Homo sapiens: one gene and its partners. The protein of the gene in region 1 purifies or fractionates together with the protein of each later gene. This does not show direct contact. Each region holds a gene or a part of one and is shown in the gene's direction. Other genes may lie near its edges.

The links.
Region 2: the proteins of PLA2G4A (region 1) and SUGT1 purify together in Homo sapiens (affinity purification with mass spectrometry; one large-scale study listed by BioGRID and IntAct). This does not show direct contact.
Region 3: the proteins of PLA2G4A (region 1) and MYBL2 purify together in Homo sapiens (affinity purification with western blotting; one study listed by BioGRID). This does not show direct contact.

What each region holds. Positions count from the first base shown.
Region 1 is NC_000001.11:186,831,799-186,835,453, forward strand, and holds part of PLA2G4A (cytosolic phospholipase A2), read left to right. Parts: intron 1-3,655. UniProt on the Homo sapiens protein: Has primarily calcium-dependent phospholipase and lysophospholipase activities, with a major role in membrane lipid remodeling and biosynthesis of lipid mediators of the inflammatory response.
Region 2 is NC_000013.11:52,697,758-52,701,486, forward strand, and holds the end of SUGT1 (protein SGT1 homolog), read left to right. Parts: 3' UTR 1-3,152; downstream 3,153-3,729. UniProt on the Homo sapiens protein: May play a role in ubiquitination and subsequent proteasomal degradation of target proteins.
Region 3 is NC_000020.11:43,698,038-43,701,692, forward strand, and holds part of MYBL2 (myb-related protein B), read left to right. Parts: intron 1-1,719; coding exon 1,720-2,007; intron 2,008-3,655. UniProt on the Homo sapiens protein: Transcription factor involved in the regulation of cell survival, proliferation, and differentiation. Transactivates the expression of the CLU gene.

The sequences.
Region 1 (3,655 bases):
AGCAAAGAGACAGACAAGAAGTTCATGTATATACATGTTTATATGTCTAGATATGTTTCTATACATACATGTAGTTTTACAAAATTGTGATCACACTGTTCATGCTGTTTTGTAACATGCTTCTCCCTCATTCATGAGATGCATTGTTAAAACATGTTTTTTTTAATAATCATGCATTACTTTGTATTCACATATTTAACAAATATTATTAAGTCCCTACTGTGTGTAATGCAAGTAATGGCAATCTATCCATGAGCAAAAGAGTATGGTTCTTACTATATGAAATTTTTCATCTGTATATAGGCTGTACTGGCCAATTATATCTTGTTGGATATTTAGATAGATTAGTTTTCCACTATTATAAATAATTGTTGGATATTTAGATTTATAATAGTTTTCCACTATTATAAATAATATTTCATCTAGGACCTTTTTTATATATGTTAGTATACATTTTTGTTTATTTCCTTATGGTAGATTCTTAAAGTTTATTTTCTAGGTTCTAAAAAAAATTTTATTACTTACAAGTTGTGAGATGATAATCCAATTACTTTATCTCCTTAAAATGTTGTCTTCTCAATTGTAAAATAGAAATAATAATAGTTGGGTATTTTGAGGATTCTTTAAAATATTTAGCGAAATCTCATGGAATGCTAGTGATTATTTTTGACATTTTGCTCTTGAGGAATATGGTATTCATTTATGAGCAATATAAAAGAGTAGAGTTTTCTATGTCAATACTGGGTGCCATCATCAAACAGAGCAAATGACAACAAATCCAACAACTTGGATAATTGATATACGAAAATAGTATCTTGTTTAAATTTACATTTCTTTGTTGAACAAAGTTGAGCAATTTTCATAGTGGCCACTTATATGTCTATGTTTGTGAATTGTCTCTTTCAATGTGATTTAAAAAATTTTTCTCTTTCAATTTCAAATATGATAGATATTAACGGATATAACTTACATAATCATAGCACTTTTGGGGTCCTCAGTAATTTTGAAGAATATTAAGAGTCTTAACAATATAGATGAAATTTTGAACTGGAAGTAGAAATTCTATAAACAATGTTTTTCTCATTTTTGGAGGGTTATTTTTAGTGTTTCCTGAAACCTTTCCCTTAAAAATGGGTGAGAATACATAGAAAAATGAGAGCAAATTATTTTTTATTCTCATAGACTAATAGTTTACAAATGATGGGAAACCTGGAGGGTTCAGAGATGATGGCCAAAACCCAGCACCAGAGACATCCTGGCCTGAATCATGTAAAGAAGATATTGTTAGGACTAAGGGTGGCGTGATGACTGTTCAAGTTTTGTAAGGCTGGGTGCAGTGGCTTACACCTGTAATCCCAACACTTTGGCAGGCTTGAGCCCAAGAGTTTGAGACCAGCCTGGTCAACATAGTGAGATTAATTAAAATCTTATTAAAAATTTTGAAAAAATCAGCTGGATATGGTGGCATGCACCTGTAATCCAGCAATTTGGGAGGCTGAGGCAGGGGGATCATTTGAACACAGGAGTTTGAGGCTGCAGTGAGCTTTGACCACACACCGCACTCATGCCTGGGTGATAGAGCAAGATTTTGTTTCTTATTAAAAAGAAAAGTTTTGTGAGGAAAATAATATTATTGGTTGTGAACAACCAATTTAGAGAAAATGAATTTCAGTTCTGGCCAACTCTTTGTCTTCTACCCCTTGACTATTAGGGCAATAAATAGTTGGGGGAACCAAAAGGTTGGTTCTGGAGTTCTTTCCAAAGAAGACAGTAAATAGAGCAGAGGTTATTCTGGTCCTCTGATACCATTACCTGCCTGTTAATAAAGGATGCATTACATGTATTTGCTACTTTTGCTATGTGATTCTAAGTTTTTTGATTCTTTTTGTGATTCTTAGTGCAAATCTTACAACACACCTTGAAAATACAGTTTACCTTTCCTTATACAAAAAATGAAATAAGCATAAACAACTCAATGCTCACCATAAGCAGATTTGTAAAGCTACCCTACCAGTCTAATCACTTATTAAATGAATTCAAATGAGCTTAGAGAAACTCAGCAGACACCTGACGCTGAAAGTTATCAGTGTCAGAGTTTAGCCATCACTCTCCATTAAAGATAATAGACCAAATTGGCTCTCATTTTTCTTCCCACTCCTTTTTTGGCACATGCAGTTGTGAATCAACTGCTTCCTTTTCCCCAATCTTCCTCTTCATTTGCTTGACTTCTGGAGTCTTCAGGAAAAAAATCGGTATTTTAGGTAACAGTGTGCTTTGAATTAGTAAACAAATGTCATTAATATGTATTCTTCTACAGTACAGAAAACTCATGTATTTATGATACTCAGCTTATACTTGCTTAGGTTTTTGTTTTGTTATTTAATTTACAAGCTGTTTTCTCACTATCTAGTTTGAAAAAAAAATCAGAGGCCCAGTATTTTTTTATTTTCACAGGCTTTGTGGTTGATAAAGGGATTGGTTATGAACTTTGTTTATTTCCACAAAACTGTGTAAGTTAGCAGTACAGGTATGACTATCCACATTTTACAGATGTGAAAAAGAGCTATTGAAAAGTCAAACGTTTTTTTCTTTTTTTTAATGTCTGCCTTATGATTCCATTTTGATGTATTTAAATGTTTAAATATATTGGTTTATATTTTTAGTTTTAATGTGTATTCTTTGAGGTTGTCACACTCTTTCTATTGGAGTTAACATCAGAAAAATTACTGGAGAAGGCCCAGGAAGTCCACTCTCCTGGTGCGTGTTTCCATAATAACTCAATCGTTCTGCCCTTATAACTTGATTACTGATTGACGTAATAGGGGAGGTTGTGCAATTTTGGAACTACATAGTACTTTGTACAGTAGTATGTATACTACTTTAAGAAAATAAAATATATTACATTTTATCTAAAAATACAAAATAAACACATTTCATGAGTTATGTAAAAAGTGCTGATTTTGCCAAATGTTTTGCTTTCAGGTTGGTCGTAGAGAATTTTCTTAGAATTTTCTAAGTATAACCTACAGAACCTATGGCTCTTTCTGGCTCTTATTAAACCTGGCAGTTGGCATAAAGCATTTGTATCAAAATGGTTACTCTGACCTTGGATTTATCATTTGGACAAAATAATTATTATTTTACCTTTCCAAATAATTCAGTAGCTTATGATAAAGCAGATACTCCTTCTCAGGGGTAAAACCCAACATTAGTTATACGCTTGACTTAGTATACATACTATGATGTGGTAATAAATAATGCATACTAGGTCAGGTTTTACTGCTGGATACAACTGTGCCACTAGAAACATTAGGTCAGCACATGGCTTCTGAATTTCAGTCAGTAAATTGACACACTTCTTATTTGCCCCATACTTTTATGCCCACAGTTTTGACAGGATAAGCAAGTTAAATGCAGTACACAGGCAGTAAACTGGGATGTTCACCCCTTATGGAAAAAAGTATTTTTGCAGAATTCTTGGATCTATAAGAAGAGACAGTGTCTGCCTAGGATAGTCTCGAGGCAGATAAATGGTGTTTTAAGTTTTGAAACAAAAAGGCAATTCATTTTGTGGACTTTTTAAAACATATATTTGATGCAATATTATGAAAGTATTGAAAAAAGTAATTTGGAGCAATTATGTAAGAATTTATTG
Region 2 (3,729 bases), on another chromosome or scaffold:
AACTTGGTTCATGACATCCACTCATTCATTTATGCACTTAGCAAATATTCATTGATTGCCAAATACGCATCAGACACTGAGCTAGGTGCTAGGTACTAGGTAAACAAAATTCCCTGCCTTCATGGAGCTTAGCTTGTGGTGGTGGAAAGAAGCCCTCAGCCTGAATACTCAACTTATGTCTGCCGTTTATTCCTTAACACATTAAACTATAGGTAATAGCATATGTTAGTCTAATCTTTGTTTAGCAAAGCTATTTCTTGTTCTGGAATATAAGTACAGTTACAGCAGAATAAGTACCAAGGCAAGATTGGAGAATGACCGGTTGTGAACAGGGACTTAGGAATATGTGTAGCATAGGATTTTATTTTAGAGTTGTTAAAATCAGATCAACAGAGCATGTTTTTATGGGCCATCTGACAAGACTAGAGGTAGCTTTGGAACCTCTTATTCCCTGGAATGCAAACATGTATTTGCATTTCATCCACTGTCAGTATGAGGAGACAAAAACGAAGTCAGGATTTTGGAGCTGGAATGGATCTTAAATACTATGTAGTCCAAACGTTTGGTTTTACAGATGCACTTTTTCCAGAGTGCTGTCATCTCATATACTTTTTTCTTCATACAGGTTTTTAATGTAACTCACTCAGATCGTTGGTGATAGACTCTCTCTTAAAACTTATTTATCCTAATCTTTTTTTTTTTTTTTTTTTTAAGAGACAGGGTTTTGCTCTGCTGTCCAGGCACACAATAGCTCACTGTAACCTCCAACTCCTGGAGTCAAGTGATCCTCCTGCCTCAGCCTCTCAGGTAGCTGGGACTGCACTACTAGTGCACTAAGCTAATTTTTAAATTTTTTTTGTAGAGACAGGGTCTTGCTGTGTTGCCCGGGCTGCTCTCTTAACTCCTGGCCTCAAGTAATCCTCTTGCCTTGGCTTCCCAAAGTGCTGGGATTACAGGCGTGAGCCACCATGCTTAGCTGATTTGCCCTAATCCTCTGCTGACATTCTGATATCGGACAACTAAAATTATAACATTGGGCAGCTATTTTGTATGATATATAGGGTAGTGGTTCTTAAGCTTATTGGTGAGTAACCTTCACTTGGGAAGCTTATTTTTAAAAATGTAGACCTTCATTACTTTCCTCCTGAGATTTTGAATCAGTACCTTTGAGAGAGGGTCCAGTAAATCTTTGTTTTGAATGAACTGATGGTTTTGAAGCAGGTGACCTGGAGGACTGCATGTAGAACACAGTGATGTCAAGGAGTAAAGGAGAGAACAGAAGTGAGATTAGCACTAATCACCTCTAATGCCTTATTTCCAGTAAAGTTTAGAGAAGAGGAAAAGCTACTTGGCTTGCTCCTTTGAAGGTTTTGTTTCCCTCTTAACACAGAAATTAAAAGGTAGAGGAGAGATGCTGAATGATGCTTTTTTTCTTCTTAATCTTGGGGGGTCATTATGATTAAGTTATTGAATCCATATCACCGTATGACAGCACATGATGAAAGAAAATCAAATGTTTGTTTCAATCAAAGTGAAACAAAATGAGAATAACTATTTGGGCAAAACACTTTTATCACTGCTAAGATATTACTAGAACTGAGCAGAGAAATACTCAGAGAGAGCCATGGCATAGTACTAATTAATAATGGGGTACCATTTAGCAACTGGAATATTCTCCGATGATGCCTGTTTAATTACCCATAGGTGCTAAGTGAATGTTAAAAATTACGGTGCTGGTTGAGTAGGCCGAGTAGAATTTGTGTTAGGGCACATCCCATGGAGATCTTTTTTACTGCTTAATTTTTTGGAGTTACCTCAGTAACTTAACAGGCAGGAATATGGTTTTAATGGAAAGGAAACCATTTGCCTTTAACAGCATTAGTCCCGCTAAGAGAAAGTTTTTGCTTGTCTAGTTTATTACAGGTCTTTGACTTTGTCAGTATATGGCAAATTTAGTATAAAAGATGATTAATTATCAAGGCTGATGAAATATAGGCAGCTGAAAAGAAAATTCTTAGCAATTCATACCTTAGAAGGAACCCTGAAGGACAGGACGCCATAGAAATCCTGTTTTTTTAAAAAAGTAATTTCAAGTAAGTTTGCAAATGCAATGCTAGTAAAAAGTATATAGAGGTATGTCTTTCACACTATCTTGTTACTATTAGAATTTTTGTAGCCATGTGCAGAGGAGAGAAAAGGTGTTGGATTTTCTGCAGTTCTGATTCAGTTCTAAGAATTTGGTGTGAAAAGAATGTTTGCAAAGGAGCAGGCACAAAGGTGAGAACAGGAATACGAAACACAACATCTGTAAATGACTAAATTCAGAGGGAATTTAGTGGGGCATATCTCTTAAATGGTTTTGAATAATTTGGTGTTTTAACCAATGACTTAATTTAACTTAGTGGGTATACTGTTCCCAGTCCCATTACTGATTTTTATTCCTCTGTGATAACATACACCCAAATAAAGACTGCTATGTATTTGACTTTAAAACTATAAAGATGTAAAAAAGGTTCACTAAGCCAAACACCTTAGAAAATAGCCTCAGCTATTTGCTATGTTTATATTATACCTGCATAAAAGTATTTATGTATAGATGTACTTACCTTACACAGTAAGTACCTAAAATTTGTAAATTGAATACTTTTGAATGTAAGCAGTTGAAGTAAAACCTGTAGTGAGTTCTTCAGTCAGTCAACACTAAACCTGTTTTGTAAATTTGATGCTAGTATTATACTGGACTTTCTCAAAATGAAGTACACCTATATATGCATATAGTATATGAGCATGTGTATTTGTACAAAAGCCCTTCAAAAGGAGTTCAGCTTTTATAAACACCAAAACACTCTCTGCCTGTAAAATGTTTTTGCTGAAATTTGTATCATTAACTCTCAAATTTACATCTTCATGTTTGAGATACGCTTTTAGGACTGTCTATGCATGTAGACTTTGGTCAACTCTCTCCTCCTCCCTCAATAAATCAGTTAACTTAAAAAATATATTGTGACCATTTTTATAAAATACATGTTCATAAAACAGATCAACATATTTAGCTTATACAGAAATAAAATTAAGTCAATCCACTCACAAAGAATTTCTATTTTGTAAAAATGTAGCTTGTATTTCAGTATAATAAAATCTGATGTAAGAAACTGTTGAGTGGGTTAAGTGGTTATTCTTAGTATTATATCTACTTTTTTAGTGTCACAGTTATTTGAGGTGCTGGTGGAAGGGGAGGTGTAAAAACACACAAGTTTTTGCAGCCAGAAAATGAAAACATTTTCCATGTGCTGACTAAATGGCAGCTGTCACATATTTCCTTCCATTCCGAGTCAAACTAGGACCTTGAAATCTAACTTGAGATGTTCCATCAGGATTGGTTTGTACCACTACTGAGAATTAAATGAGTATCTAATGAAGTACCAATAATACACATAAGTCTATACACACATACTAACATTTCAGTCAAGATTCAGCACAGCAAACTGGGCTGTATTTGCAACTTTTAGACTGGCCTGGTTAAAAGTAATTTGAGAAATTAGTAGTACCAAGTTGTGAAGAAATTTGTAATTCTTCCCTGTTGCCCTCTCTTCCTTTATTGAATGCTCATCTGTCCACTTCTCTTTCAAAGTAGACCCTTATTTTCATCCTTGAATACAATTTAAGTCTCCTTTGTCATTCCTATCCTTAATCCAACCTTGAATTTTTCCTCTGTTATTAAATCATCCT
Region 3 (3,655 bases), on another chromosome or scaffold:
AATTTGTTATTTGGCTTGGTTGTCTTTTTTTTTTTTTTTTTTTATCTTGTTACTGGTTTGTACATTTTATTTGTATATTAAGGATGCTACTCCTTTATCATGTAGTAACTATTTTTTCCCAGTTTGGTAGCTTTTTTTCTTTATTTTATAAAGGTATAATTTACATACAATAAAATTCACTTTTTGTTTGTTCGTTTGTTTTATAGAGATGGGGTTTGCCCAGGCTGGTCTCGAACTCCTGGGCTCAAGGGATCTGTCTGCCTTGGCCTCCCAAAGTGTTGGGATTACAGGTGTGAGCCACCACGCCCCGCATATTTTTTTTTTTTTTTTTTTTTTTTTTTTTTTTTTTTTTTTTTTTGAGACAGAGTCTCGTTCTGTAGCCCAGGCTGGAGTGCAGTGGCGCAGTCTCGGCTCACTGCAAGCTCCATCTTCCGGGTTCACACCATTCTCCTGCCTCAGCCTCTCAAGTAGCTGGAACTACAGGCGCCTGCCACCACACCTGGCTAATTTTTTGTATTTTTAGTAGAGATGGGGTTTCACCGTGTTAGCCAGGATGGTCTCGATCCTCCTGACCTTGTGATCCGCCCGTCTCGGCCTCCCAATGTGCTGGGATTACAGGCGTGATTTTTTTTTTTTTTTTTTTTTTAAATGAGCAGGGTCTTGCTCTGTACCCCAGACTGTAGTGCAGTGGCGTGATCATAGCTCACTGCAACCTTGAACTCATGAACTCAAGGGGTCCTCTTGCCTGAGCTTTTCAGAGTTCTGGGATTACAGGTGTGAGCCGCCACACCCAGCCCCCTCCCCCCTCCCTTTTTTTTTTATTAGAGTCTTGTTGTGTTGCCCAGGCTGGAGTGCAGTGGTGTGATCATAGCCCATTGCAACCTTGAATTCAGGAACTCAAGGGACCCAATTGCCTCAGCCTCCCAAAGTGCTAGAGTTACAGGCATAAGCCACTGTACCTGGTCTTTTTATTTTTTAATGTTTATTAAGCATTAAAAATTTATTTTTTAATTTTTTTGAGACAGAGTTTTGCTCTTGTTACCTAGGCTGTAGTGCAATGGTGCGATCTCAGCTCACTGCAACCTCTGCCTCCCAGGTTCAAGCAATTCTCCTGCCTCAGCCTCCCGAGTAGCTAGGATTACAGGTGCCTGCCACCACACCTGGCTAATTTTGTTTTGTTTTGTTTTTAGTAGAGACAGGGTTTCACCATGTTGGCCAGGCTGATCTCGAACTCTTGACCTCAGGTGATCCACCAGCCTCGACCTCCCAAAGTGTTGGGATTACAGGCGTGAGCCTCTGCACCCAACCTCTGTGTATTACTTCTTTCATCTGAGCCATTTGAGAGTTAGTTATGTAGCATAGATTCCTAAGAATAAGGCCATTTGCTTACATAACCACAATAAAGTTATATTCAATCCAGGGAATTTAAGCCTAATTCAGGATCTTTATCTACAGTTTATATTCCATTTTTCCCTGTCCATGATGCAGTCTAAGACCAGACATTGCATTTAGTTGTCCTATCCCTTTAGTCAGCCTTTCTTAGTGTCATGATGTTGACATTTTGGAAGTATATGGTATGGCTAATTATTCTGTAGAATGTTTCTCTATTTGGGTTCATCACAGTTTCCTTCTTAGATTCAGGTTGTGTGGTTTAGCTGGAAACTACTATATAGTCTATATCTCAGCGAAATGCAAATGGTGTATTCTTGTGTCTTACAGGGAAGTCTTCTGACCAACTGGCCCTCCGTCCCTCCTACCATAAAGGAGGAGGAAAACAGTGAGGAGGAACTTGCAGCAGCCACCACATCGAAGGAACAGGAGCCCATCGGTACAGATCTGGACGCAGTGCGAACACCAGAGCCCTTGGAGGAATTCCCGAAGCGTGAGGACCAGGAAGGCTCCCCACCAGAAACGAGCCTGCCTTACAAGTGGGTGGTGGAGGCAGCTAACCTCCTCATCCCTGCTGTGGGTTCTAGCCTCTCTGAAGCCCTGGACTTGATCGAGTCGGTATGTTGGTCACAACACTTCACAGTGAGCACAGAACACCCCCAGCAGGAAGTGCTTCTCTCTCAGGCCCACATCCTTTTGCTCATTCCATCGCCCTGCTAACAGTTACTGACTTGATGCTGAATGCCTAGCCCTGACCCAAGGGCTGGGGACACCAGGGTTGTCAGCATGCAGTCCCTATCCTTGGGGAGCTCCCGGTGTGTGCAGCAGGAGTTTGTGGTGGCATCTGACCTCTATGTATGGCACAGGGCGGGGTGGGAAGGCTGCCCAGAGGAGGTGGCACTGAACTGAGTCCTAAAGGTTGACTGGCAGGTGACAGCACAGGACAGCGTGGTATTTGTGGCATCACACATGGTTGGGTCTCCCTGAAGAGGAGCCCAGGAAATGCCAAGTCTTGGTGCTGGTCTTGGAGTGGTGAGTGGGTTCTGGTTACTCAGGGTGGGGCAGCCATTGAGCCCGTGTTGTGGTTACTGTGTTGGCTGTGTGGTTGTGTCCTTTGAGGAGGGCTTCTTGGTGTGACACCCCGGCTCCTGGCTGCATCGGCCAGGCCTGCTGTGTAGAGCGGGTTTTGGGAGGTGAAAGACCAGAGGCCTGGTCACTAGGGTGGGGAGTTCAGTATGGGGGTCCGTGTTCGCCTTTCCACCCAGGTGTCTCCCATCCTAGAACATCTAACTGCCAGGGTCTGAGCTTAACATACAGTCTGCGTGGTATCCTGTGAGGTGTGTCATTTCTGTTTTTTAGGTGAAACTGAGGCTCAGAGAGGTCAAGTAGTGTACCCAAGGTTGCACAGCAAGTATACTTGGTGGTCTTGACTGCCATGCTATGCTCCTGCTACTATCGCTTGGCAGGCACAGCTCGCTTGTATTGAGCACCCACTGATTGCCGGAGCCAGTGCTTAATGAGTAATTACAGTACCTAACATTGGAGTGCTTGCCGCGTGCCAGGCCCATCACTTGCTACCTAATGTGTAGGCTCTTAGTTGGTCTTTAACAGCCTGTGAGGTGGGTAGTGGACTCATCAACAGTGAGAGCACCCCACGCTCAGAGAGGTTAGGAGACTTGGCCAGGTTCACACAGCCGGTGACCTCCAGGAACAGGAGTTAAACCTTGCTGTCCGGCTCAGAGCTCAGGCTCTTTCCACAATGACCTTCAGCGCCTGTTGGGGGAGTTACTGCGTGTGTGGAAATCCCATCTTCCCTCCTCTGCTCCGTCCACTTCAGTGGTCCTTGTAGGATGTACTTCTGGTCTACCAGACACTGTCGGTGCTGGGTCCTCCCTGAATTGGGGTGTGGGCCTGAGGTCGGTCCTGCCCCCCAGCTGGCCTCCACCCTTAGGAGTGAACTACCCCAGGGAACCAGAACTCGGCTTTAGTGTCTGGGTCCACTCAGAAGCCAGAACCCAAAGACCAAAGTGGAAGCCTCTGTGTCCAGAAGCCTTTTGGTTTGTGTTGTGATTTATTGGGTAAAGGAGGGAAAACCTGTAGTGACTCACGGGCTTGTTCTAGAAGCTGAGTGAGTAACTTTGGGAAGACCGAATCCCCTTAGCTCAGCTTCCTTGGTATGAAAGGGAAAGTAATGCTTCCCTAGCAGAATTGTGGGGATTGGAAATAACTTTTGTGAGCTGCCCCAAGGAGGCATCAATGATGAGTG